Linked DNA regions of Homo sapiens. The protein of the gene in region 3 interacts with the protein of the main gene of each other region in a pairwise test. Each region holds a gene or a part of one and is shown on either strand. Other genes may lie near its edges. The genes, in order: TRIM35, HOXD3, IGFN1 and DDAH2.

What was found.
Region 1: the proteins of IGFN1 (region 3) and TRIM35 interact in binary tests that used the Homo sapiens proteins (3 or more experiments, as listed by UniProt).
Region 2: the proteins of IGFN1 (region 3) and HOXD3 interact in binary tests that used the Homo sapiens proteins (3 or more experiments, as listed by UniProt).
Region 4: the proteins of IGFN1 (region 3) and DDAH2 interact in binary tests that used the Homo sapiens proteins (3 or more experiments, as listed by UniProt).

The regions. Positions count from the first base shown.
Region 1 is NC_000008.11:27,308,252-27,315,681, reverse strand, and holds the start of TRIM35 (E3 ubiquitin-protein ligase TRIM35), read left to right. Parts: upstream 1-4,409; 5' UTR 4,410-4,446; coding exon 4,447-4,881; intron 4,882-5,015; exon of another isoform or gene 5,016-5,176; intron 5,177-7,430. UniProt on the Homo sapiens protein: E3 ubiquitin-protein ligase that participates in multiple biological processes including cell death, glucose metabolism, and in particular, the innate immune response.
Region 2 is NC_000002.12:176,160,307-176,167,329, reverse strand, and holds part of HOXD3 (homeobox protein Hox-D3), read right to left. Parts: intron 6,507-7,023; exon of another isoform or gene 6,250-6,506; intron 4,376-6,249; exon of another isoform or gene 4,177-4,375; intron 4,171-4,176; exon of another isoform or gene 3,258-4,170; 5' UTR 3,162-3,257; exon of another isoform or gene 1,535-3,161; intron 843-1,534; exon of another isoform or gene 1-842. UniProt on the Homo sapiens protein: Sequence-specific transcription factor which is part of a developmental regulatory system that provides cells with specific positional identities on the anterior-posterior axis.
Region 3 is NC_000001.11:201,207,813-201,214,835, forward strand, and holds part of IGFN1 (immunoglobulin-like and fibronectin type III domain-containing protein 1), read left to right. Parts: coding exon 1-5,809; intron 5,810-6,364; coding exon 6,365-6,489; intron 6,490-7,023.
Region 4 is NC_000006.12:31,726,524-31,733,165, forward strand, and holds DDAH2 (putative hydrolase DDAH2), read right to left. Parts: upstream 2,777-6,642; 5' UTR 2,639-2,776; coding exon 2,342-2,638; intron 2,223-2,341; coding exon 2,123-2,222; intron 2,002-2,122; coding exon 1,928-2,001; intron 1,770-1,927; coding exon 1,650-1,769; intron 1,170-1,649; coding exon 1,020-1,169; intron 831-1,019; coding exon 714-830; 3' UTR 517-713; downstream 1-516. Other genes in the region: CLIC1 (chloride intracellular channel protein 1), read right to left, coding at 4,319-4,480, 5,694-5,875. UniProt on the Homo sapiens protein: Putative hydrolase with unknown substrate. Does not hydrolyze N(G),N(G)-dimethyl-L-arginine (ADMA) which acts as an inhibitor of NOS.

The DNA.
Region 1 (7,430 bases), on a different chromosome or scaffold from region 3:
CTTCTTGTTTTTGATTTGTGGCCCCATTCAGAATATGAGAAAAAAAAAAGACCCAACAAAATAAGGAAGATCAGGTAAGAACAGAATGAAACACATAGACAGCAACACATATCGATTCACAACACAACTGGGACACAGAGATAAGAGAACACAGTGAAAGAGAATGAGACGACGTAAGAGTCTCTGCGTTGGGGGGAGGGGAGAGGGCTATCTGGAGTGTAGCGTTGTTAGCCCCATCTTGTGGCTTTTTTGGATATTGCCTCTAAGGTTAATTTTTGAACCACTAACCAACCATAGCTGGAGACCCAACAACTTGTTGGGTGAATAGATCTAGGATAATTGCTTTCAAACTTTCTTGCACCTCAGAATCACCTAGCATGCAAGTGAAAATGAAGATTCCTGGGCCTCACTTTCCACAAGAGAGATGAGTAGATTAAAGTGGGCCCAGGAAACTGCTTTTAGAAAACTCCCCAGGTAATTGCAGGAGAACCATGAACCACATTTAAGAAACACTGAAGGCAATTAGAGTTAGTGGTATTCATCCCTTGTCATTGTGAGGAAAGGACTATGCTGAGGAAAAGTGTGGAAAGAAATTATTAAGAACTTTAAAGGTCTGAGATTTTACCCTACTTGCAAGCTAATGTGTGGGCCAAGGGAAAACGTCTCCTTTGCCCCTTGAAGTTTCACTGCAAATCACTGACAAAAAGGTTAAGAAGAGGAAAGGGATAGAAGTTTATTTATTTTTTTGAGACAGGGTCTGGCTCTGTCACCTGGGCTGGAGTGCACTGGCACAATCTCGACTCACTGCCACCTCCCGGATTCAAGCGATTCTCCCACCTCAGCCTCCAGAGTAGCTGGGACTGTTAATGGTGGAGGGTGTCCAGGTTATTGGCATCTTGAACAAAGAATTGGAAAAAACGCACAAACTAAGCAGGGAAGGCATGAAGGGTTTTATGGAAAATGAAAGTAAACTCCACAGTGTGGGAACCGGCCTGAGATAGGGGCTCAAAGGCCCCATTACAGAACTTTTGGGGGTTTAAATACCCTCTGGAGGACTCCATTGGTTACCTGGGGTACGCCCTATGTAAATGGAGAGGATGAAGTAAAGTTACAAAGTTATTTACTTGGCCTACGCCCTATGGGGAGGATATTTGCTGTCGCAGCTGAAGTGTGAATTGGCCTTATGTTCCCTGCCTCCAGACCCTATTTTCCTGCCTCAGGCTATAGGCGCACACCACCACACGCGCCCGTTGTATTTTTTGTAGAGACGGGGTTTTGCTATGTTGCCCAGGCTGGTTTTGAACTTGTGAGCTCAAGGCCTTCTTCGACCTCCCAAAGTGCTGGGGTTACAGGTGTGAGCCACCACTGGCACCTGGCCCGATCCGCCATGCCTGGCCTGATCATAGTTTTATGTGACATGGGAGCCTTCAGAATGAAGACCTAAAGATAGACTGGAAATGGCTCATTTTCATGCTTAGGTTCAGCAAAGTATGAGTAGCTGTGTAGAAATATGATTGAACAAAAGGGTATGAGCTAATGTTAATAAACTGAGTGGGGAACCTAGGCCTGTCTGTCTAGATTTTTCTTGGCCTCTACGAACATGCATTTCTTCCTTCCAGGTATGTTACAGGTAGTTAGACAGGCATGAGCAGGGCAGGAGAGGACTCTACCCTCCCCAATCCCCTCAAGCAAGAATGCCAGGTGATGGTTTCACAGTTATCACACTGCCTTTCTAAAATGGATAATTTGGCAGATGGGCCAGAGAGAGGGAGAGAGACAATTCCCTGATGGTCCACAGCTGTCACTAAAGTGTTACTTGATGTTAATTGATATTAAAGCAGGTGCCAGGCATAGGCAATTTCCCAAACAGATAAAAACACTTGAGATTGGTAATCAGCTTCCAATAAAATTTCAGAAATTGGGTGAGTGAGCTTGGGCATGCACATTAAGAGACAAAATAGTGGAGTATGACCTTCCGGGGGCATTCCACTGGAAAAGGGAAGAAAGCCTCAGATGGGCATGTGTACAAATTCCTAAGCACATGGTGCATGCTCACCTCCCAAGCATAGGGAGGGCACTGTGCATTCGGGCAGCTCACACTGAGGGAAGAATGAAGGGAGAGGGCAGCAAGACTCCAGAAGTGGGCCAGCATATGAAGTCCCAGGATCAGGGTTAAATGCCACACTTGTCCCTCAAGTTGCCCGCTTGGGTCTCTTCCAAGTGTACTTTCTTTTCTGTCCCAAACTTTTTAATAAACTTCCACTCTTGCTCTGAAACTTGCCTCAGTTGCTTTTTCTGCCTTATGCCCTGTATTAGTCCATTTTCACATTGCTATAAAGAACTGCCTTAGACTGACTGGGTAATTTATAAAGGAAAGAGGTTTAATTGACTCACAGTTCCGCATGGCTGGCGAGGCCTCAGAAAACTTACAATCACAGTGGAAGGTGAAGGTGAAGCAAGACACCTCCTTTGCAAGGCTGCAGGAAGGAGAATGAACACAGGAGGAATTACCAAACACTTATAAAACCATCAGATCTCGTGAGAACTCACTCACTATCAGGAGAACAGCATGGGGGGAAAACCACCCCTGTGATTCAATTACCTCCACCTGGTCTCTCCCTTGACACGTGGGAATTATGGGGATTACAATTCAAGATGAGATTTGGGGTGGGGACACAGCCAAACCATATCATGCCCCTCAGTCTAATTCTTTCTTCCAAGGAGGCAAGAATTGAGGTTGCTGCAGACCCATACAGATTCACTGCTGTTAACTCAGACACCTTCTACCCCTAACAGGTATGGGGTAGGACCCTCTCTGGAATCGGGCTCTTATGGCCTACAGTCAAACAAGGTAGGTCAGATAATTTCTTTATGGCCAGTTATTCCACAGAAAGGCAGAGAGAAAGAGTAATATTTTAAGGTTTCAAGACTGGCTTTAGGAAAAAGGGGTTCTGGTTTCTATGACCTGCCTTGGGGAAAAGGAATTCTAATTTCTATGGCTATCCTTGGGGGACTGAGAGATAGGAGGGCAGAGAAAAATTTCTGCTTTTGAGGCCATTTTGGGGTATTGTTTTCTGAGTTTCAACACTAACAAGTTTGCATGCCAAAATTTCATGAATACTGCTAAAAGATGAAACTCCTGGGTCAGAGACAAAGGATAATACTAACAGCAATAATAGTAGTCACAGTATTGTCATTGGGCCAGTTTCTGAGCCCTAATTCTTGCAAGACTATGTGATGAAGGCTACAGTAGGTTGCATTACAGGAGAGGGGCCCCAAGTTTAGGAAACTCACATCTCTTATAATTGGGAATAAGTCTGCCAGATCTTTGGAGAGACAAGAATTCTGTCTTCCAGGGCTATTCAATGCAGAAACATCCTTGAAAAGATAGTTGGAAAAAGGCAGTCAGTGCCTCTGCTCTCTCAAGACATGCAGGAACATGACACATGTGAATTGTCTCCCAATAGAAAAGGAATGAAAGTGCATCGTGTGAAAAGTATTCTGCATCTGGAGGCTGTAAAGTGATCAAACTGAAGCAGGAATGAAGATCTGAAGGAACCATCCAGGCCTACTGTACCTGGCAAGAATTGAGCATGAACTCTAGTTATCTCAGCTAAACTTTGCAGAAGTCCTCAATTTCACTGTTTTAATGGGCACTTGCCCATTAAAACAGTGGTTGTCATGAGCACTTTCCACATTTATTTCACTTTATCCTCACACTTCATGGAAACAGAGCTATTACAGCCATTGTACTCATGAGTAAATGGACTTTGAAACATGATGACCTGTTCACTTTTTCAACCACAGGACAAGAATCAGGTTTTCTCGGAGCTCTTCTGCCGCCACCCCTCTCTTGTTTCTCCTTACCGCGGCGGGCCAGAAGAAGACTGGCCAAAATAAGTAAACGACTAATGCAAGAGTGGCATAGGTCCTCAAAAAGGCGCTGCAAACTTAAGTGGTGATTGCACTCACGGTGCTTTAAGACCCAGCCACTACTTCGGAAGCAGGAAGTTGGCATCTCTGGTTTCTCCCATCCGCGGGCCTGAGGTTCCCGGGGATTGGTTAAGGTAGAGGCTCCTTTTCCCATTTGCAGCCGGAAGTAGGTTTCCAGTAACACGGAAGCCCTACTACGCCGCCTGGGAGACCCTTCCGTGCTACCCCGGCCAGGGACCCGCCCGGACCTGAGGAGGCGGGAACTGCGGGCAGAAGGCCCACCCCGCTCTCCCAAGATTTCCCGCGCACACCGGAAGTGGGTGGGGCTCCTCCGAGCGCCCCCTCCCTCCCCCTCGCCATCCCCCCCGCACGATTGGCCAGCGCCGCTGTCTCTCAGCGTTCCAGGGGAAGGGACTGGGCGATTCCCAGCACTCGGGTCGCGGGCGTTGGCAGCCGGGCGGGTGGGAGGGGCCGGAGCAAAAGTTCCGGGCGCCCGAGCCGGCTGCTCGTGCCATGGAGCGGAGTCCCGACGTGTCCCCCGGGCCTTCCCGCTCCTTCAAGGAGGAGTTGCTCTGCGCCGTCTGCTACGACCCCTTCCGCGACGCAGTCACTCTGCGCTGCGGCCACAACTTCTGCCGCGGGTGCGTGAGCCGCTGCTGGGAGGTGCAGGTGTCGCCCACCTGCCCAGTGTGCAAAGACCGCGCGTCACCCGCCGACCTGCGCACCAACCACACCCTCAACAACCTGGTGGAGAAGCTGCTGCGCGAGGAGGCCGAGGGCGCGCGCTGGACCAGCTACCGCTTCTCGCGTGTCTGCCGCCTGCACCGCGGACAGCTCAGCCTCTTCTGCCTCGAGGACAAGGAGCTGCTGTGCTGCTCCTGCCAGGCCGACCCCCGACACCAGGGGCACCGCGTGCAGCCGGTGAAGGACACTGCCCACGACTTTCGGGTAAGAGCAGCGATTTGCACGAGGCGGCCGAGCCGGGTCTGGAACCCGGAATCCCTTGGCTCTGCGGCTCCCGCCCCTCCTGCCTGCCAGAGCCCAGTGTGCCCGCGTCTCGCTCCCAGCATGCAGGACCCCACCTCTCCGACCCAGGTTCTCAGGGCTGGCTGCTTCTTCAAGGTCGGCCCAGGGGCCCGTGCTGGGAGAAGAGAATGCGAACGGAAAGTGACAGATGAGGTTACATGATGTTCCCAAGACAGCGACACTTGCTTCTGAAGGGCCCAGGCCATGCACCCCTTGTGCCAGCCGGGTGTGGCCCAGGTCCCTTTAAGCGGCACGGATGTGGGTGCAGCCCACGAGCCCTGTAGCTTGGCACACTCAATTTAGAAGTGGAGGAGGAGCCACAGACCTGGCCAGGGGTGTGGAGTCTTAAGATTTCCCCCAAACCAGTCACCTACTTGCCAAGCTGATCCCGCGGTTTGTATTATCTGAGTGAGAGGTCTCTGACCCTGGCTGGCTGGCCTATTCTGGTTTATAAAGCAGCATCTCCATATCTAGAGTTCTAGTGACTATACATAAACCCAGGAGCAACTTACAGGGCAAAACTAACATGGAGAATTCTTTGATATAGGAAGGAAAAATGAATAGAAGATAAGGGTTAGCCTAACTCAGCATTTTCCAAAACGTTTAATCTTAGCCCATAGGAAGCAATGCATTTTCCCTTGTGACCCAGAACATATGTATCAGTTGAAACAAAAGTTTTCTGAACATGTCCATGGCACTCTGATATTTTCTGTTACTTCCCTTTGTTTTTTTTTTTTTTTGAGACCTCTATCGCCCAGGTTAGAGTGCAGTGGCGTGCTCTTAGCTCACTGCAACCTCCGCCTCCTGGGTTCAAGCGATTCTGGTGCCTCAGCCTCCCGAGTAGCTGAGATTACAGGCATGTACCAACACGCCTGGCTAATTTTTTTTTTTTTTTAATTTCTAGTAGAGGCAGGGTTTCACCATGTTGGCCAGGCTGGTCTGGAACTCCTGGCCTCAAGTGATCTGCCCTCCTCTGCCTCCCAAACTACTGGGATTACAGGCGTGAGCCACTCCGCCTGGCCTCTGTTACTTTTAAAAATTACCCAGAATGTGAAACATTGAATTTATTTCATCACCTGCTAATGCATGAGTCAGAGCCCCAATTGGGAGAACACTGGGTAGCTGGCCCGAAGCTGCATGGACTGGAGAGGAGGAGCTGCCCGAGTCCCCTGTGCCTGGTTTCTGGCCCCCTCTGTGGCCCTGCCTTCTTTTTTTGCAATACCTTTTTAAATACGGAAGTCTGTTCCGCTCCAAATGCATTTGACAAAGTTTAATTGAAGGGGAATGTAAGGATGCTGTCAGTACGCATGTCTCAATGAGTAACCCTGTTACTCCTGTCATCTTTTTTGTTTAACATGGGTCCATGTCAATGCTTTTCCTGTTTCCACTGGCAGAAGTGACAGATCCTGATTTGGGACAGCTGGAATAAGTGCTGGCCAGCCAGGGGTCTGGGGCCCAGGTAAAGGAGGGATCATGGTTCAGGTCATGACTGATGCCTATTTGGCTGGCCGAGGTGCTGATCAGGAGATGCTGGGGTCAGGGCTGAGAACACCCAGGCAGAGCCCCCAGGCTGGGGCCAAGCCAGGATTCAAGAGCAGAGAGCCATGCACCAGCAGATGCCTGGTACTGCAAGGTCCCAGGGATACTGCAGGAGACAAGATAGACCATTTCCAGCCTCAAGGAGCTTCCAGCAGAGACCCGAGGGAAGAGGAGGTGTTAGCCAGGTGAAAGAGGGTATTTCAGATAGAGGCAGCAGCATTTGGAAGGGTCCAGAAGTGGGAAAGCCTGACTTTCTAGGCACTGAGGGAATTTAAGGGTAGTTAGAATGAGGAGGGACGTGCAGGAGGATCCAGGAGGCCGGTGGCTCACCCTTGCTGTGAACAGCAGCTGGGGGTTTTAGCAGAAGAATGATGGTGTCAAGTCAGTGGACACTCAGGATGATGTCAGGGGCTGAGTAGTCTAGTCCCAAATGGATCTGAGAAGAATGAGAGCCAGGTGTGGTCAGCCTGATGCAGGGTGCAAATCACTCATTTACTAGACAAATGGGTACTGATGGCTGTTGTGTGCTGTGGCCTCTTCTTAGCTTCATGGAATTCTCATTTGAGCAGGGGGCATAGACAGTCAATAGACAAGATGTAGTTCTGTGTGATTCAAGGTAGGTGGTTGTGGGGGAGCGGTATGGGAAGATTCCCTCCACCACTTGGTAAGAAGGGACTGGGTAAGAAGCTGTGTGCCTCACTGAGGGGGTTTTCCGTTTTGTGCTGTGGGGAGCTCTGAAAGATTCTAAACAGGGGAGTTTGTGATGGGATGTGTGTTTTAGAGAAAGATTACTTTGCCAACTATCTATGTGAGGAACAGCAAAGTCAAAATCATCCCAGCTAACACATTTCAGTGCTCACTGTGTGCTAGATGCTTTTCAGTGTTCACACGTCAACAAATTTAATGCTCACAAAAACGTATTTTCAGGTCCT
Region 2 (7,023 bases), on a different chromosome or scaffold from region 3:
ATCTATTGTATAAATAGATATTATTGACATCTGCTCTGGATAATCTATTCTACCCTACCTCCCACCCAAACCACAACCAATGAGAGAACCTTTCATGACATGATGAATGGACCCAGAATTAGAAGAAGAAAAAAAAGCTAAGAAAAATCCTACCCCTTTTGTATTCCCTTCTTTATGGGGGTTTCCCTTCTCTCCCTGCCTCCCTACTTCTTCTGAAAGGCTCCTAAAGAGTTAAAGTATAACTAATACCATTCAATCACTTTGTCTGTTTGATAAAGAAAACTCATAGGTCAGCTCCCTGGTCTCAATTCTTGATCTGTCTTTCAGGCAACTTTCCTTCCTAGAAACTCTCCCTGGCTTCCATCCTGGTCATCATGATGTACCACATCATCTAGACAGCTTATGTGGCCTAATGGATTTGACCACAGGTACCAGAATGATTCACTAGTTTTCCCTCCACCTGCACCAAACAGCCTAACCCAAATTTTAAAATTCTTCTAATTAGTCTTTGGTAGGTAGTGTTGTTGCCCTTTTTGTTTTGTCTTGTTTTAGAATATAAGTGAGTATGCCATTTGTCTTGATGAGGAACAGGCCCTTAATACCAAGATACTATGTTGTAGAAATTGTTTCCATTATTGTTCTTAAATGTATGTAGGTAGGATATCTACTTAACAAAGCTGGACTTAATTTTTCTTTTGATTAATTTTATATATCATTCTCTGTTAAAAGTTACTGGATATCAAATGGACAGCTAAGTCTTCATTCTGTGACTAATACTTACATATGTTTGCCCCCTGCTGAAGAAAGAGGCACTCTGGATTTGGTTATGTTTCAGGCTTTTCTGGTATCCTGCTTTCAGTCTTAACCCTCTGGAGGCCTAATGGTCACATCGGACACTCAGACTACCAGAACTTGCTGCTGCTCTGTCATTCCATTTACAACTGTGGAAGCAAAACATTCACCCTCCTGCCTCCCAAGTTGACAAAGTTGATCTAGATAGGTGAACCAGTCACGTTAAAATAGCTTACTTAGGAACTGACCAGTTCTTCTGGGACAGATGGCTTTATATATATATTTGCTTCTATGGCATATTCCTAGAAAAAGTTCTGTGTACAGACCTCAAAAGTACAAACATTGGGCATCTTCCTGAAAAACCAGAGTCTGTTTTCCTAACTGTTTACATTGTCTCAAGAAATTTCCCACTCAATGACAATCCACTACCTTAATGTCCATTTCCCCAAAAGCAAGAGCCAGTGATGGTGCTGTCCTTACTGGAAATGGCTTTGCAGTCCCCCAAAAATGCAGTTTCCCAAAAGTGATCCCTCTTAAAACAAAACCTGAGAATATAGTTACAAAACTGGTAAAAAGGCTTATTTCTTTTCAGAAATCCCTACTCCTTGTGAACTCTGCTTGAACCTAAAAAGCAGGAACGGGTCATAAATCACTTGGACAATGGTCAACTGTTCAGTGGCTCATCTTTTCGATCACCCCCTCACCCTTTTTTTAAAGCCTTTCTTTTCTCGCCCTTTGGTACCTTTGCTCATTTGGGCTCCAAGACCCAAATGTCTTGGGGTGAAGATGAGCCAGTGTTGGGGGAGGGGTGGTCGAGCACGGCTTCTCATTTCTTCCAAGTCCTCAGCTGCCCTTTCCTCTCCCTCCTCCTCTCCTCCACCCTCTAGCCCGGGGAACTGGCCAGGGCAGCCTCCCCAAACTCCGCCGGCGCCATCCCCTGCTCCTCCTGGGAAAGGGGTGCCAAATAGGTCTGGCTCGCCCTTTCTTGCGGTGCTGGGAAGTTGCCCAACTCAGCTTGGAGGCCCAACCGCAGGCCCGGAATACAGGGCCAAACGGTCTCCTGCCGGAAGGAAGGTATTCTCTGAGCGGCCACCGCCCGCTTCCCCGGGCCCGCCGGCCCGCCGCAACCGCTGCGCCTCCAAAGCAGCCGAACCCTGATACTTGCTCACCGCACTTAATGCTACTAGAGATCAATACCTAATATGATACCAAATAAATAAAAGGCGCTCACAGCGACCAGGGGACGGGGTTATTAAGCAGCTGGAGCTCTCACGGTGCATATCAATGCACCTGTCATTGTGGTTTGTAGCAAAATTTATGACTGCGACCACGGCGGCAGTAAACGCTTCGGTAAGGAATGAAAAGAAAAACACTTCCCAAGGCCCGGCACTTTTCAGCAGTGGAAAGCAGGCTCCGCGTAGGAGGCAGCGCAGCAAAAGAATTCCCTACTCCGCACTTTTCCCGCTCTTGCACCCTGCGAGCAGCAGGATTATATAAAGTGACCGGCGCCTGCTTCTGCTAGCAGCTCTGCTCGGCGGTCGGAGGCGGGACGAACGCGCGCAGCCTCGCTGGGGACCAAAAATCTGCTGCCCGTGGTGGCCTCGGACGCCGGGAGGCTAGTCCGACTTGCGGAGGCCGGCTCGGCACTTGCTTGTACGCCGGTGGCAGTGGAAAAGCTGAGGGGGCTTGGGAAGGGAGGGGACACCAGGCGCCAGGCTGTGACTAGCGCTGCAATCGTCGTAAATCACCGACGGGTAGAGTCAGCCCATCCAAGTTGAAAGAGAGGGGGAAGGCGATGGAGGTTGCGGTCAGTTTCTCTCAAAATCCGCTAGTGCTCGAGCTGGTCTCGGCGCCTCCCCCTGTTTTGCCTAAACCAGGGTCAGAAGCCCACGGATCTCTTTCTGGCGGCCAAGACTTTTGCTGAGCATCCCCACGAATTCACTGGAACCGAGCAACGATTCTCCCTTTCCTGTTGGCTTTGCTACTTCGGGATTCGAAACCACTGGTTTTTGGGTTTGCTCGAAAGGAGACTTCTTTACGTTCCGCCCAAGTTCTCCCGATCTCTAAGCTTGAGCCTCTTTTGCTCTATAAGAAGACCTGGACGCGCCTTCTAAATCACTCTTATTTAGCCCAGATAACTCAATACTGTAATGCACCCTGTATTTAAGGCACTGGGCTTGCCCCATTAAAGCGCCATAAATTTGAAGGCCAATGATCGGTTTTCATGTAACGGGTGGTACTTCATACTGAAGTGACCCACTTCAAAGCTGCCCTTTGTTCTATGTCTTGATGTATGAATTTTGAGATGGCCACCTTGAGTTGCAGAGGGAAATGTACTGGAAATTATTATTTAAATGATGCCCACTCACCACAATTATGTATGTGTGTGTTTTCTTGAATTTTGTCTTTATCTCTTTTTTTTTTGTAGGCTCTTCAGGTTTCTTTTGATATCTGTGGAGGCGAATCTGGAACAAAATGGAAAACTCTCAGTAGCAGCCGGTTCTTGCTTACAAACACTTACATGTTGAAGGGCTTTTCCCACTTGAAGGACGTCATAGTCAATGTGACTATTGTATATGGTACCCGTGACCATCCAGACGCCTTCTCCCCGGCAAAACACAGACTCAGTTGGCTCCTGGGGAGCGAGGGCCCCTTTAACGCCAAAATCCATGGCTGGATGGGGGAGGGGAGAGCCCGGACGTGAGGGAAGCGCCAGACCCTCTAGCCAGGTGGGTCAGAGGTGCAGGGAAGCCAATCTGCTCTCCTCCTGCCCCTACCAAATTCTAAATGCTCCTCCAGGTCCCAATCCCGGAAGCCAAACACTCTCCTAGGGGCAGAAGAGAGAGACCGTGCAGAATTAAGGTGGGGGTTTGGCAGGGGAGGCTGCAGAAAAGGGCACCAGGAAAGGAAGGTAAATAGGCTTGGGTGGATCTTGGTCAGGGGCTGCTCTACAGAGCCTCAGTGAAGAGGACCTGGGCGCTAGTTCCTGATTTATACATTAAATATATCAGATGCTTTCCCTGAGTTTATTCATTCCGGTAAGTATCCACCACACTCTTGGCCCTGGGCTGCCCACTTCTGGGTCAGGATCAGACTGCAAATCGCCTAAGAAACAAACATCCTTTCCACCCCCACCCAAAGCCACAGACCAAGCTCCCCCACCACTGTCACCGCTCAGCGGGTGACCACCCCCCGTCAGGTGAAAGGAGAGAGACAGAGTCCCCCTCTTGCATCTGCCCTGTGCAATTTGTCGACTCAGTAGTTTGCGAGCACTAAACTACACCCGGGAAAGCCTCACACAAAGCGTTCCCGGCGCTTCTAAAGACTAAAGCGCGCAGCCATAAGCCTTTGAAGTGACCTTTGGCTCGCACCGCAATAACTCACCCCTTAATGAACACCCAACAGAAGCGCCTCGAAGAGATCCCAGCCCGGTAGGGCTCCTAACTTCGCGCTGCGGCTTCAGCTTCCCAGCCGGCCTGGACCCAGGGGGAAAAGCCACTTGCCCGCCCCCCTCCCCCAAGCGCTCTTGGCTGGGCCGGGACCTGAGGGTGGTGCGGTGGAGGCCCGAGGTACCAGGGCTCTCAAGCCAGCTGGTCCTGTAGCTGCTTTATATAATACATTCACGTGGGCGGACGTCAACTTTCGCCGCTTGATTATTTTTTATTTATTTATTTTTAAAAAAGAGTTCTTTAGAAGTAGGAGCATCCCCTCAAAAGAAGAGCTAAGTTGGGAGGTCACCCGGGGCCGCCACCCCCTTATGCCTCTAGCTAGATTTTTCTTTTTCCAGCCGCGGAGGAACAGGGTAAGTTTGCGCCTGGGGGTTCCGGGGTGCGCGGTGCGCTTTGAGCTCTTGGCGTAAGAGGCTTGGGAAGAAGAAAGGAAAGAGGACCCCAAGTTAACCAAAGTTGGACCACCAGAAAAGCCTTCAGCACCTTCTCCCACGCTCCCTACCCTGCCCACCCACCATCCCACGCGGGTCCAACTTTGGCTCCTTGTTTGCCCAGATTCTCAGCCTTAACCGGGCTGGCTTTGGACCACCAGCACTGGTGCTCTTTCTGGAGCCAAAAACGGGAAGAGCAGGAAGGAGCTGCGTCCGTGAGCTGTCAAGGAAGAGCTGAGTCCAGGCAGCCCCAACCCTACACCTCATCCCTCAGCAGCACCCTAGGAAAACTCTTTAGGATAGGGCCAGCGTGGAGCCTTGGTAGGGATTATTGAAATTTTCGGGGGAAGTTATAAGTGAATGCTCCATGGGGCCAAATGAAATGCTACTCGCGGTAATTGGATTCAGCTGACTAAGCTGGCAGGCGCGCAGCTTCAAGGCAGCTAGCAAAGAAAAATGTCCAGCGACTTTCAGTTCTGATGAAGCCAAGCGCAGGAGATTGACAAAACAACTTTACTGCTCTCTTATGATGGCGAAGCCCCTGGAAGTCGGTTCCTCTCCTGCTAGGGCCTGTCCCAACCTAAGCTAAGGGAATGCTCCTTGCTTTTGAGGTTCTTTCCCCATAAAGGTCCGGTTGGGTCTGGCCCAGTGGCATTACCACGAGCATGGAACCACTCACTGGAGCTCCTGGAGCTGCTCACTCCATCCCTGGCACGGAAAGACCCGGGATGGGTTGTCTTCTCCTCTCCCAGCCAGTAGCCACAGGGAGCAAGTAAACAAAAGGAGAGATGGGATTCGTGAACCAATATATGATTTAGCTTTCATTCAGGGTTCTTTGGGGAGAAGGACCTAGAAACACTAAACCTTTTCTCTGCCACTACGGCAATCAAAAGCCTGGATTGGTAAAGGGAAATGTGGAGGAACCTCCCAAACTCTTCTGGGTAGTTTGGAGGTTCTCTCAAATTTTGGGAGGAAAAGCTCAGTAGCGTTTTAATCTCCCAAGAAAAAATTAAGCCAACAGCAAGAGGTAAAGGCTGTGTGTGGAGCTCGCTACCGGAACAATGCAGGGAGCTGGCTGACCACCGAGTTTATTTTAAATACATATAAATCAACCCGCCTGCACCCAGCCCGGCAGCTCAAGACACAGAATTAATATGACGCTCCATCTTACTTTGGCAGTAAAGTGTAAAAAAGTTTTAATTTCTTTTTCAGCCCATTCTCCTAAGTGCACATTTAGCCCCCAAATATTTCCTCCAGCACTCAATCCCCTCACCAGATCCCCTCCTTAAACTGCTACTACCACCCCCAATGCTGCCGGCCACCCTCCAAGCCTGGCAAGGTAGTGTCCTCCTAACCCTTTGGTAGGCGGGGAACGTCCCCACAAAGCGCGCCTTGTTACGATTAATCACCGTCCTCCATGTATATGTAGCAGTGTATCTAGGTCTACGCGGGCTGCCTCACCAATTGGCAATAATCAAGATCACAGATTACACAAAATAAATCATATTTAATATCCCGCTCAGGGCGGCAAGCAGCCCCGTGCCCAAAGATTTCCATTTTGTCATGCAATTGCTTACCTGGATCCCAATTTATCATAAACCTGGTGTCCTCGGCCTCAGAGTGGGCGCCAGTGGGGGGCAGAGCTAGCCTTCCCCCTTTGTCTGCAGACAACACTGTCCCAACCCTGGTCTTGCGCGCTCGCAGACACGGCCATATACTCGAGCACACGGAATTCCCGGTAGAACGGAACCAGGCTGAGGTTCAACTACCAATAAACGCAGGAGGAACGAGTTCGTAGTCCCCGAGCTGGCTTCGCCTGCGCTGCGCGCCCATCGGTCCACCCGCCCGCCCGTCCGCTCTCGGGCCCAGAGCGGCAGCCACCCGCGCCCCCACCCACTCCTGGGTTTCTGCCCAGCCCTCCCAGGCCCCCCAGAGCTTGGGATTTGTTTTGCTTGCGGAACGTGGTCGTTTCTGGATTTGGAGAGAGCCCCGGAAACCCCCTCATAGTCGGGAAATACAGACGCTGCCTTCAAATGCAAGCATATTTGTTCACGTGACCCCGAGGGAAGCTTGTACTGATTGAGGCTGAAACTTTCACGCCACCCAGTCCCGGAGCGCAGCCAAGCCTGGGGGCTGGAAGGAAGGGCGCAGGAGGCTTGGGACCTGGGCCCCATTCCTGGGGCAGACGCGGATGGGTGTGGGGCGGAAGGAAAGAACACATTTTCGCAGCTCCGGGCCGACTCAGTCTTGGCCTGGCCGCCCTCAGTGGGTTGGGGGCGTTGAGAGTCTCTCCCCACAACGACCTCTGACCCTGGCTGGGCCTTCCGCCAGACTGGTCCGGGAGCTGGAAA
Region 3 (7,023 bases):
AGCTATGGCTCAGGGGTTCCAGGAGAAATGGGGTCCGGCCATGGTGCTGGTTGTAGAGTTTCCCCTAGGGCACCTGCGGGAGTGGAGTCTGAGGAAGGGGGTGGGTACAGGCATGGCTCCGGAGCGCCTGGGGGAGTGTGGTCTGGAAATGAAGATTCTGGCCCTGCAGGAGGAGGGTCTGGGAGAGTTGCCAGTCTTAAAAATGGCTCAGGTGGTCCTGATGGAGCACCCATGAATGACACCAGGAATTGGGCCTCTGCATGCCAGGCAGGCATGGACCCTAGGGGAGGGCACCATTCAGATGGTGGCCTAGGGAGTCCTGGGGTGACAGGGTCTGCGGGTAGAGGTGGTCTCAAGGCCCCTGGAGTAGTGGAGACTGTTGGGATGGGATGTGTGGAAGCAGAACCAGAGAGCTCTGGAAGAATAAGGCCTTGGGGTCAGACTGGAAATTATGGGGGCTTCAGAGCCTCAGAGGCCCTGGGGGCCTTTGGAGAAGGAGGCTATGAAGATGGCTCTGGGGGTCCAGGAGCCATGGGACCAGGGTCTCTGAGGGCAGGAAGCAAAGTGGGTGAGGGGGATGGGACAAGATGCCCTGGTGCTAAGGCCTCTGGAGCTGGAGCTGGTTATAGGGATGATACCAGGCACCCTGAGTCACTCGCACCTCACAATGGGGCCGCTTCTGGGAGCCAGTGGGCTTATGGGGCTGGCAATGTGCTGGGTTATGAGGATGGATCAGAACTTCCAGGGCCTCAGGGAACTGGGGTCAGAACAGCCTATGGAGAAAGGTCAAGGGGCCTTGGGCCTAGGAGTACAGGGCCAGGGGGTGAGGCAGGCTTTAGAGATGGTTCAGGAGGCCTCCAAGGAATGGGATCAGCAGATGGGCCAGGTTGTAGGAAGGGTATTGGGAGTTCTGGGGAAATGGGGTCAGTGGATAAGGAAGGTTATAAGAAAGATTTGGGGGCTCCTGAGAATATGGGTTCGGGGAGCAAGGCAGATTATAGGGATGGTGTAGGGGGTTCTGGGGCAATGGGGTCAATGGATGAAGCAGGTTATAGGAAAGATTTAGGGGCTCCTGAGGGAATAAGTTCAGGGAGCAAGGCAGATTATAGGGGTGGTTTACAGGATTCCAGGGAAGCGGGTTCAGGGAGCAAGGCAGATTATAGCGGTGGTTTAAAGGGTTCCAGGGAAATCGGGTCAATGGATGAAACAGATAATAGGAAAGATTTGGGGGTTCCTGAGGGAATGGGTGCAGGTTACAGGGCTGGTTTAAGGGGTCCTGGGGAGATGGGGTCACTGGATGAGTCAGGTCATAGGAATGGGATTGGAGGTTATGGGGAAATGGGGTCAGGTTATAGGGAGGATTTGGGGGCTCCTGAGGGAATGGGCACAGGGAGCAAGGCAGGTTATAGGGATGGCTTAAGGGGTTCTGGAGAAATGAGGTCAATGGATGAGGCAGGTTATAGGAAAAATTTGGGAGCTCCTGAGAGAATGGATTCAGGGAGCAAGGCAGGTTACAGGGGTGGTTTAAGGGGTTCTGGGGAAATGGGGTTAATTGAGGCAGGCTATAGGAAAGATTTGGGGGTTTCTGAGGGAGGGGGTTCAGGGAGCAAAGCAGGTTATAGGGGTGGCTTAGGTTCTGGGGAAATGGGGTCTGTGGATAAGGCAGGCTATAGGAAGGATTTGGGGGCTTCTGAGGCAATAGGTTCAGGGAGTAAGGCAGGTTTTACGGATGGTTTAGGAGGTTCTGAAGAAATGGGGTCAGTGAATAAGGCAGGTTATAGGAAGGATTTGGGGGCTCCTAAGGGAATGGGTTCAGGGAGTAAGGCAAGTTTTAGGGATGGTTTAGGAGGTTCTGGAGAAATGGGGTCAGTGAATGAAGCAGGTTATAGGAAGGACTTGGGGGTTCCTGAGGGAATAGGTTCAGGAAGTAAGGCAGGTTTTAGGGATGGTTTAGGGGGTTCTGAAGAAATGGGGTCAGTGAATAAGGCAGGTTATAGGAAGGATTTGGGGGCTCCTAAGGGAATAGGTTCAGGGAGCAAGGCAGGTTTTAGGGATGGTTTAGGGAGTTCTGGGGAAATGGGGTCAATGGATGAGGCAGGTTATAGGAAGAATTTGGGGGCTCCTGAGGGAATAGGTTCAGGGAGTAAGGCAGGTTTTAGGGATGGTTTAGGGAGTTCTGTAGAAATGGGGTCAGTGAATGAGGCAGGTTATAGGAAGGATTTGGGGGCTCCTGAGGGAATGGGTTCAGGGAGTAAGGCAGGTTTCAGGGATGGTTTAGGGGGTTCTGGAGAAATGGGGTCAGTGAATGAAGCAGGTTATAGGAAGGATTTGGGTGCTCCTAAGGGAATAGGTTCAGGGAGCAAGGCAGATTTTAGGGATGCTTTAGGGAGTTCTGGGGAAATGGGGTCAATGGATGAGGCAGGTTATAGGAAGGATTTGTGGGCTCCTGAGGGAATAGGTTCAGGAAGTAAGGCAGGTTTTAGGGATGGTTTAGGGAGTTCTGTAGAAATGGGGTCAGTGAATGAGGCAGGTTATAGGAAGGATTTGGGGGCTCCTGAGGGAATGGGTTCAGGGAGTAAGGCAGGTTTCAGGGATGGTTTAGGGGGTTCTGGAGAAATGGGGTCAGTGAATGAAGCAGGTTATAGGAAGGATTTGGGTGCTCCTAAGGGAATAGGTTCAGGGAGCAAGGCAGATTTTAGGGATGCTTTAGGGAGTTCTGGGGAAATGGGGTCAATGGATGAGGCAGGTTATAGGAAGGATTTGTGGGCTCCTGAGGGAATAGGTTCAGGAAGTAAGGCAGGTTTTAGGGATGGTTTAGGGAGTTCTGTAGAAATGGGGTCAGTGAATGAGGCAGGTTATAGGAAGGATTTGGGGGCTCCTGAGGGAATGGGTTCAGGGAGTAAGGAAGGTTTCAGGGATGGTTTAGGGGGTTCTGAAGAAATGGGGTCAGTGAATAAGGCAGGTTATAGGAAGGATTTGGGGGCTCCTAAGGGAATGGGTTCAGGGAGTAAGGAAGGTTTCAGGGATGGTTTAGGGGGTTCTGAGGAAATGGGGTCAATGGATGAGGCAGGTTATAGGAAGGATTTGGGGGCTCCTGAGGGAATAGGTTCAGGGAGTAAGGCAGGTTTCAGGGATGGTTTAGGGGGTTCTGAAGAAATGCGGTCAATGGATGAGGCAGGTTATAGGAAGGATTTGGGGGCTCCTGAGAGAATAGGTTCAGGAAGTAAGGCAGGTTTTAGGGATGGTTTAGGGAGTTCTGTAGAAATGGGGTCAGTGAATGAGGCAGGTTATAGGAAGGATTTAGGGGCTCCTAAGGGAATGGGTTCAGGGAGTAAGACAGGTTTCAGGGATGGTTTAGGGGGTTCTGAAGAAATGGAGTCAATGGATGAGGCAGGTTATAGGAAGGATTTGGGGGCTCCTGAGGGAATAGGTTCAGGAAGTAAGGCAGGTTTTAGGGATGGTTTAGGGAGTTCTACAGAAATGGGGTCAGTGAATGAGGCAGGTTATAGGAAGGATTTGGGGGCTCCTAAGGGAATGGGTTCAGAGAGTAAGGCAGGTTTTAGGGATGGTTTAGGGAGTTCTGGGGAAATGGGGTCAATGGATGAGGCAGGTTATAGGAAGGATTTGGGAGCTCCTGAGGGAATGGGTTCAGGGAGTAAGGCAGGTTTCAGGGATGGTTTAGGGGGTTCTGAAGAAATGGGGTCAGTGAATAAGGCAGGTTATAGGAAGGATTTGGGGGCTCCTAAGGGAATGGGTTCAGGGAGTAAGGCAGGTTTCAGGGATGGTTTAGGGAGTTCTGGGGAAATGGGGTCAATGGATGAGGCAGATTATAGGAAGGATTTGGGAGCTCCTGAGGAAATGGGTTCAGGCAGTTACACAGATTACAGGAATGGTTTAGGCAGTTCTGGAAAAATCAGTTCAGGGGATGAGGCAGGTTATAAGAATGTTTTAGGGGGTTCTGGGAGGAATCCATTAGGGAGCGAGGCAGGTTCTAGGGGTAGTTTGGAGGATTCTGGGTACATTTTGTCATGGAATGAGGCAGGTTCTAGGCAAGGCTTTGGGGGAACTAGTGGCATGGGGTCAGGGAGTGAGGTCAGTTATAGAGGAGGCTCAGGAGGATCTGGGGAAACGGGACCAGAGGGTAAGATGGGTTATGGAGATGGTTCAGGGAGGCTTGGAGTACCAGGCTCACTGGCTGGAATAGGACATGAGGCTGGACCCAGAGGCCATAAAGCCATGGGTCACAGGTCAGGATATTGGGTAGCATCAGAGGGTGACACGAACTCCAAGGATGGTCCAGAGCGAGCCAGGGAAACCAGGCTTGTGGATGGGGCAGGACCTGGGGTGGAACCTGGGATGGCTGGAATGCCAGGCACTGCAGGTGGCATGGCACACAGAGACAGCCTCAGGGGCACAGGGGTGCTGGGGTCTCAGGGAGGGCGACAGACTCTTTCAGATGAGCGAGGCTCCACCAAAGATCTTGGGGGCTATGGAACTTCAGGGATCCCTGAGGCCTCGGAGGCTGCTGGTGCCAAGGGAAAACCAGATGTCAAAGAATGGCAAGACAGTTCTGGGACTCCAGGGTCTTCTAGAGACAGAGGGGCTCCCAGGGTGAAGGATAGGTCTCCAGACCAAGCAGGGATAATGGGGGCTTCTGGGTTTCTTGATGGCAAGGGGGCAGTGGAAGGTGAGACCTGGGCAGGAATGGCTGCTCTAGGGTCTGGATATGAACGGGACATCTGGAAAGCAGGCCCAGGAATGACAGACAGGGGTAGAGTTGCTGGCCAGGGGGGGTTGGCATCTCAGGGAGGTGGGGACTCACTTTTGGGAGGCAGAAGGGTAGGCTCAGGGAGTTCAGTGGGGACAGGTCAGGATCTGGACAGCGGCTCTATGCCTGGGGGAAGGGGCAAGTCAACATCAGGGCCTGCTGATAGACAAGGGACGAGCAATGCTTGGGCTCCTGATTGGGAAAACCAGGGGTTTAGCCAAGGCAGCATAGATGCTGGGAAGCAGCCCGCAGGCTCCAGAGCTTCCGGTTCTCTGCAGGAGAAAGATGCCGCTTTTGGTGGGACCCATGAAGGGCCAGGGGGCTTTAAGGGTGGGGAGGGTGCACCAGGCCAAGAGGCGGCTGGTGGATGCCGAAGCCCATGGTCCCTGGATAGCAAAGGTTCAAGTCCTGGAAGGGGCAGTTCTGTTGATGCAGAGGACTCAGGTATCCTGGGCAAGGGGAATTCTACTGAGTGGGGGAATGCCCTCACCCCAAAACCTGGGGAGTCCGGACCTCAGGGAGCCTGGAATGGCTTAGATGGTCCCTTTGGCAGAAAAGCCTCTAGAGATAGGTCAGGAGGGACCCAGGACCTGAGCTCTCAGCGAGGCAAGGGACAGAGAGGAGGAAAGAGGTCCCTCGGGGAGCAGGGGTCCCTGGAGGCTGAGAATGGTGAGGTCCAGGGTCCTGGGGCCCTAAAGGAGGATGAAGGGCAGGGAGTGGAAGAGGCTGGGAGGTCAGGCAGGAGGCCTGGCTCACTCAGGAGCAGGTCTCAGGCACAGTCAGGGGCTGAGGTTGGAGGAGGAAAGAGAAGGGGAGCAGACGAGGCTGGAAGCATGGGGTGGCAGCCTATGGGAGAGAACTGGGGGTGCCTGGAGGAGATGCTGAATGAAGATCAGAGCCGGGAGCCCCCTGGTCACCTTGGTAGCAGGAGAAGTGGCAAAGACGGCAGGTTGGACATCTATGGAGAGAGGAGAGATGCTACCCGGAGTTCCACATCCAGATACAAGCCTGGCACTGGCAGTTTCTCCAAGGATGCCCAAGGTAGGTGCTTCTCTGCTGAGCTGGCTCCCATGGGCTAGAGACAGTGGGGAGCTCCCTGGCCACTGGGATGCTTGGGTCTGTCCCAGTTCTGCCTCCAGCCCCAGGAGTTTGTCCCTGCCAGTGCTCCCCATTCTCAGGAATCTTTTGCAAATTTAGGAAGCAACCTCTTCCTCTTTACGCAGATGGGGTCCAGCCTGTGAGAGGCTCAGAGGTCTCCTAGGTATCTGCTCTTGAAACCTTATGTCCACAGCACCAGAGTTGTTGACCCAACTCTCTGTGGGTTACCAGACTTCTCACCTGTGGCGGGGGGGCCCTTCATATACCTTACACCCCAGGTCTCCTGGACCAGCCTAGGTCCTGCTGAGAAAAGCAGCAATGCTTGGGCTCCTGTCTGGGAAGACCAGGGCATTGGAGCCAAGATAGCATAGGTGCTGGGAACCAGCCCTGCTGACACCAGCCAAGCCCAGTTGGCAGGACCATGGTGGCCTTGCGGGGCACAGCGCAGGCCATGGCCTGGGGCGCTCGGCCCTGGGGATTCCCTCTGTGTCTCTCCAGGCCCCATGGGCCACTTCTCCCAGGGCCTGGCTGACATGGAAGTGCAGCCGGGGGAGGCCGCCACACTCTCCTGTACCCTCACCAGTGACCTGGGACCTGGCACCTGGTTTAAGGATGGCGTCAAGGTACTGCCTCCCCTCACACCTTCTCTTTACCAGTGGGAGGGACAGAGGTAAAGCAGAGAGGGGCAAGAGCGTAGAGGCTTTGAAAGAAAGATTTTTCATTCTTCATTTTGCTAATGTATCCACCTCAGGAGAAGTTTAAATAGCCAATAACTTGGTGTGTTTAAAATAAAATTGGATTTTTAAATGATGTGTATCCTATGCCCCTCAGCATACCCCTTGTTCTTCCACCATCCAAAATGCCTCTTCTATACCCATACCTGCTGAATCCTACCCATCCTTCAAGGCCTCGTACAAATGCCATCGTCTCATCCCAACCAGAAGGGGGCCCTCGTCTCCCTGCACAATCCTCTGTCCTCCATTAAAGCTGTCACCCCAAGAGACATCACAGTGACTCAGGGCATGGGGCTCAGTATCAGCTAAGTCTGGCTTCAGATCCCAGCTCTGCCACTACCAGTTATAAGACTTCAAGCAAGCTGGCAAACAGTCTGGCTTCCTCATCTATAAAGTGGGACAAATAATAGTACTTACTTCATA
Region 4 (6,642 bases), on a different chromosome or scaffold from region 3:
GCATATACTTTGATGCCCTAGGGCGCACCCCCTTTATTTCCCTCATAGAAACAGCCTTCTGTAAATTGTTCCATGACAACCTGTATTTCAATTTGTAAGAAATTTGCATGTACTGTGAGCTCCCCAACGTCAGGAGACTGACCCTTTTGATATCATTGCTAAGCCTCATTAAATGAATGAATGAAAATGAATGTCCCTGGAAGTGTCATTTCTTTTTCTTTATCAAATAGGGGTGGACTGGTAATCTACCAGTCTCTGAATCATCTAACATTTAGATAAATTCAGTGAGCAATCCACCCATACACTCTTTTCTCTGCCCTGGACACACTTCCCATGATAGAAATTCTGTCTTGTTCATCTTGTGCTCAAGTACCTATGACATGGTTGGGCAATGAGTTGATAAGTACCTAACAAGATTTTTGAATAAGAGGCCTTCTTCCCTGCACTGACCCCAAACTCAGGTTTCAGCCCTGCCCTATCCCTTTGCCCCAGTAAGACACCAGTCACAGCCCAGTCTAAAAGGTCAATTCTATTTTATTGGTTCTGAGAGGGAGGATTCACCCAGTGGATCCTTTTCCCTACACTCTCCCCTCCCCCAATATTGAGGCTCTCTCCCAACTACTGCCTATTCAGCATTCTCTATCTAACCCTCCTTCCCCTTCTACTTCCTATACTATCCTACCCCTGGCCAGCAGTACCCCAAGGCCAGGCCCTCAGCTGTGGGGGCGTGTGCTGAGCACCAAGCAGAGGGAGCTGAGCCCGGCGCCAGCCTTCTCCAGTTCTGAGCAGGACACAGGTACCAGGGTGACATCAGAGAGCTTCTGCAGTGCCTGCACAGGGAAGACATGGAGTGGGGAGAGGGGAGTGAGACCTCAGGCTGAGCCAGGCCACTCTTCCAGCCAGCTCAGAGTGGCCCCACCCAGGCTTCTAGAGAAGGTACCCTTCCTTCCTCCCACTAGGAAAGCCTGAAACTCTTTTCTCTGATGGTGCTTGGTGTTGGAGTTCCTGCCCTCTCTCACCTCCTGGCTGTTGGGCAGATCCCCACCTCCACGGTGCAGGAGGAAAGGGGGCACACCAGGCAACCCAGGACGAAGAAAGAGACAGTCAGCAGCTGCGTCATCTGGGAGGGTCAGGGAGGCATATGGGTGATCTGTCAGCACTGCCATTGCCTAGAGGAAAGAGGAAGTGTTCGAGTCTCAGAACCTCTCCACAGCTGTGTCTGCCTGCTCAACCACCACTAAGGGCTGGGGACGGACTGACATTTGTGGAAAATAATGACAGCAAGCACATAGAGCTTACGATATGTCAGACACTAAGTACTTTAGTTACCTTTGCTAATTTCCACCTTGGAATCACATGCAGTTATTTTCAACCCCCTACCTTCCCCAGCCCCTCCTATCTGTCCTACCCATCCTTAGAGTCACAGTTTAGGTGCCACCTTTGGGGTTTCCTGAAACTCCGGAAGAGCAAATTAATCACCCCTGTTCCCAGTCCTGCTGTTGTAACTTCTTATTTTCTCCTGTGTTCTTTCATGTAAGATGGACAGCCCATTGAGGGCAGGGGTTAGGGCTAATTTCCTAAGCCTCCCAGCTCCCGGCCTCCCGGGCCCAGAACTGCGCCCACTTTCGTTGGCCCCGCCCCCTCCTCACCCGGACAGCCTTTTGGGCAGCGTCGCTGCTGCCTGCCACAACAGTGCGAGGTCCCCCCATGCCGCAGAGACCGCGCAGGTGGGAGGGACCCGAGACTGGCACAGTGGAGACGGCGAAGTCCTAGGGAGAGCGAAGGGAGGTATTCAGGGGCGCGGGAGGGGTGATGGGGTATCTTCAAACATAGGCTGCTCTCTGCCTCTCATTTCCTCAGCGGGCGCCCAGGCCCTTCCGACCCCCACCTGCACCCCCTCCCTCCCTAGGCTGGTCCCGCTCCGCACCCGGAACGTGTCCGCCACGATCTCAGCTCCTCGGTGATTGGTCCATTTGGAGAGGCCTACGAAAAACTCCCGGCCTGAGTCCGGGAGGCCGCGGAGGTTTGAGGGCGGGAGTGAGTTAGAAACAAGGCTCCAGACGGCCGAGTCTCCCAAACTCTACTTCCCTGTGCCAAGACCTATGCCTCCCCCCAGCCTCACCGGTGAAGAGAACGTCAGTGCCATCCAGCGTCGCGTTCTCGTCTCCTATTTCCACAATTCGGAGCCCCAGGTCTTGCAGGGCTTTGCGGACTCCATCGACCTTAGGATAGGAGAAGAGGGCACGGAGCTGTGACACCCCCATCCTCAATTCTTCCCCAAAGCCCCGACATCCAGTTCCTTCTGCCTTTCCCCATACCACACCCGCGCCACGGCGCTCACCTCTGGCCTACGAGCGGGGCTCCAGGGCCGCGTGATTAGGGCCGTGTCCCCTTGGATCACGGCCGTGTCGCCAAGCAGCGGTCCCAGCGGCAATGACTCCTCAGGTGGCAGTTCTAGCAGCTGTAGCCCCAGTCGTTGCCTCAGTTTACCTCCCAGCACCCCGTGCTCCCTTTGAGCTTTGGCCAGATCCAGAGCGGGAAGGCCAGCCCCCGCACCTTCCCCCGACGCCAGGCTCTCTGGGACTCCCCGGATCAGGGCATGGGAGCAGCGGCCCAGCCCCTCCCCCGGCGTCCCCATCCCATCCACACAGACTCCCCCTCCAACCGCTCGGATTTCTTAGTTTTCTTGTTTCTTCACCTGTCTGGGAGAAGAAACAGAAAAGGAGGAGACAGAGAAAAAGACATGCAGACAAGGGCGTTGGGGGTGGTTAAGAGCGCCCAGGTCTTCCTCCTGCCATCTCTAGGCGTCCCTCCCACTCCGCCCCACCCACTCCAGACCTTCCGCTCCTGTCGACCTCACTCTACCCAGCACCCTCAGGGGTCAGATTCTTTAAGAGGAGCCTGAGGAACAAGGCTAGGGTCTCTAATCTCCAAAACACCTGTTGCCCCTGCTTGGGGGCTTGTGAGGTCCCTGTCGGGCGCCCCTCTTGGCAGCCACTAGGATGCGCTCACTCCCCAAAAATGCAGCAGCCCCGCCCCCTTAACCCTCAGCTGCTCGCTACCGCAGGGACTGGAAGTCCAGCCCGCGACCCGCAGGGGTTATGGGACAGAAGGAGAAAGCTGGAGAGGCAGGGGCTGGGGAATGGAAGTCCTGAATACCCGAACGAGAAGGGAGAGAGGTGGGTAGGAAGGGAGGAGTTCGAGCCTAAGGAGTTAAGCATCCTCTCTCCGCCCTGGCTGGTCACGCTGCCCCTAGCGCGACCTAGTATAAACCAGACCGAGTCCCGAAGGACTGGGAGAGGTCTAAAACGAAATGCGAGGGGCGGGGTAACAGGGGGCGTGGTTCCGGGGCGCTGGCACTACTCCCGGCTCCAGGACCCGGTTCCCCGTCTATGTCCCAAAGTCCACCCCGCCTAGCTCCGCGCCCAAATACCGGCTCCCCATACTCTCTGTCTGGTGCAGGCATGGGCCCGGCACCCCCAAACTCCGGCCCCCACACGGTTCAGGGCCCCCCACGCAAGACTCACCTCCAGCGGCCACCCCCACTCCTGTCGCGCTGTGATCTCGGCTGGGGCCCCACCCCCCGAGGACAGAGTTGGTGGAGAAGGGAGTCCCCGTCTTCAAGCCTCGGGGACTGGGAGCTCTGGCTTTTAGCGCGGGTCCTTGTGTAGGCGAGCTCATATACTACGATGGGGCAGGGGCGCGACGGTCTGGCGGCTCCGGGGCATTGTCTAAGCGGGACGGGGCGGGGCTTCTTCGGGCCACGCCCATTCCGCCCTGCTAAGCCTCGCCCATTACATCCAGACTGCGCCCCCCTTGCCAGAAATCGGCACCGCCCAGCGAGCGCTGCCCAGGCCCACCCAGATCTGGCCGGCCCTGGCGACGGGGCTGCAAACGCTTCGTAGACCTCAGAACAGCGCAACGGCGGACCGGCGGACCGGCACGAAACATAGCAGCCCCACCACAAACATTTCCCTTCTTAATTCCTGGCTTCTGCCCTGAGCTCAAGATCACTGACCCACCCCTCATTCCATGTCGCCCACACTTTAAATCCCCATTGCGTAAAAACACTTGATTTTTATTCTGTATTTTATTACTGAAATATGTTGTCCTACTCATCCCACCCCACAATAAAAATCTGACCCAGGCCCCCCATTTCTTTCCCTCATCCCCTCTTCCACCACACCATCCCGGAACAAGTGCTCCAGGATTCCCTGCCCACTGGCCATTTTGGAGTGTGTCCATTGGGTAGCAATGTGGAAACCACCAGGGCCTTTGTGGAGAAAATGGAGGGGGTTGAGGGAGTCCCAGGAGGGGCTTATTTGAGGGCCTTTGCCACTTGCTCATAGGCGAGCTCGATCTCCTCATCATCTGGACAGGTGGAAGCGAATTCTTCCCGGGCGTAGGCATTGCTCAAGTACCGATGCACTCCCCGGAAGGCCTCGGGGATGGTGAATCCCCGGTACTTCTTACACACCACCTGAGGATGGGGAGAGGAGAGGGACCAACATGTTAGACCCAGGGAAGCCACCTTGGCTTTCCCTTCTCCCCAGGCCGACATGATAAAACCAGCTCAACTCCTCACTGTCTTGTACTGTCGTTAGCCTTCCTTCTCACTTACTGAAATCCTGGCTTTTAATAACCAGCCATTTTTCCTGAGTTTTTAAAACTTGAGATATAATTTACTTATAAAATTCTCCTCTTGAATTTCCACAGTGACTTTTTCCCCCTATACCACTTCAGGCACTGACACAGGTGACTTTTGTCTCTATATTTTTCATCAGACTTTTTTTTTTTTGAGATGGAGTCTTGCTGTCACCCAGGCTGGAGTGCAATGGCGCGATCTTGGCTCACTGCAACCTCCGCCTCCCGGGTTCAAGTGATTCTCCTGCCTCAGCCTCCCAAATAGCTGTGATTACAGGTGCCCACCACCATGTGCGGCTAATTTTTGTAATTTTAGTAGAGATGGGGTTTCACCATGTTGGCCAGGCTGGTCTCGAACTCCTAACCTCAGGTGGTCCACCAGCCTTGGCCGCCCAAAGTGTTGGGATTATAGGCGTGAGCCACCACGCCCGGCCCATCTGACTTTTCATCATATATTCTTAACTTTCATGTGAATATTTTATTGTCTCAGATTTCAACCCTTTGAGAGCAAGGCCCAGTCACCATACACTTGTGTATCTTTCAATGCTTAGTACACAGATGTTCACTACATAGTTGTGTGGCAGACTGATGTCAGGCCCATGTTGCACAAACTAAACCATAGCTTTGAGACTATGACAAAAACATGGGAACCAGCAGTTTTGATCTTCCACAAGAGGAAGTGAAGACTGAAGTTATAAAGAAAGTTAAAGCTTTGACTTTAGGAAAAGCCTGCTCTGTCTAATCTGGGAATTTGGCAGTGATACCGAGACAGGAAGAGCATTCTTCAAAAGTAATACTGGGATGTATTCCTCTTTGCTAGTCTGTTTGCACCCATGACTTACATCATGGAATATAATTATCTCAAGCAGTGGTCTTGTTAGCAATGACTGCTGCAAAGGACTGGGGTGGGGTCTGCCATTGGTAGCAATTTATGAAAACCACCCTAAGAAAGAAATCGTCTTTAGAGTGGTTGTCAGGGGAAGCCCATGTGGGAGCTCCTTAAAGGGCCACTCCAGTGGTCATCCTCTCCTCCCGCAATAACCACACACCTGTACTATGTGTAACTTTGGCAACAGGTTGCAGTCAGCCAGGGTGAGCTCGTTGCCATCCAAAAACTTCCTCTGAGAGACACCTTCATCTTCAGCACTGGTTTCATCCACTTCTTCTGGGAGGGGGGATGTTAAGTAATTGTCTAAAACCTTCAGGGCTTTCAGGAGTCCCTTCTCCAGATCTGTGCAAGAGAGGGAACTGATTAGAACTTCAGGAAAAGATTGACATAGTCCGAAAAGGCCCGTTGGGGGTGGATACTAATGGTGAGTCCAAAATAATAATAGCTAACACTCATGTAGTTACTTTTCTATGTGTTATTCTAAGCACTTTACATTTTATTTTATGTTAGACGGAGTCTTGCTCCGTTGCCCAGGCTGGAGTGCAGTGGCATGATCCCGGCTCACTGCAACCTCTGCCTCCTAGATTCAAATGATTCTCCTGCCTCAGCCTCCTGAGTAGCTGGGATTACAGGTGCCTGCCACCACAACTGGCTAATTTTTGTATTTTTTTCAGTAGAGACCAGTCATGTTGGCCAGGCTGGTCTCCAACTCCTAACCTCAGGTGGTGCGCTAGCCTCGGCCTCCCAAAGTGAACACTTTACATTTTACAAACTCATTTATATCGCCGGGTGCAGTGGCTCACTCCTGTAATCCCAGCACTTTGGGAGGCCGAGGCAGGTGGATCACCTGAGGTCGGGAGTTCAAGACCAGCCTGGCCAACATGGTGAAACCCTGTCTCTACTAAAAATACAAAAATTAGCTGGGCGTGGTGATGCACGTCTGTAATCCCAGCTACTCAGGAGGCTGAGGCAGGAGAATTGCTTGAACCCGGCAGGCAGAGGTTGCAGTGAGCTGATTGCACCACTGCACTCCAGCCTGGGCGACAGAACGAGACTCCATCTCAAAAAAAAAGAAAAAAAAAAATTTATATCAACCCATGAAATAGGTA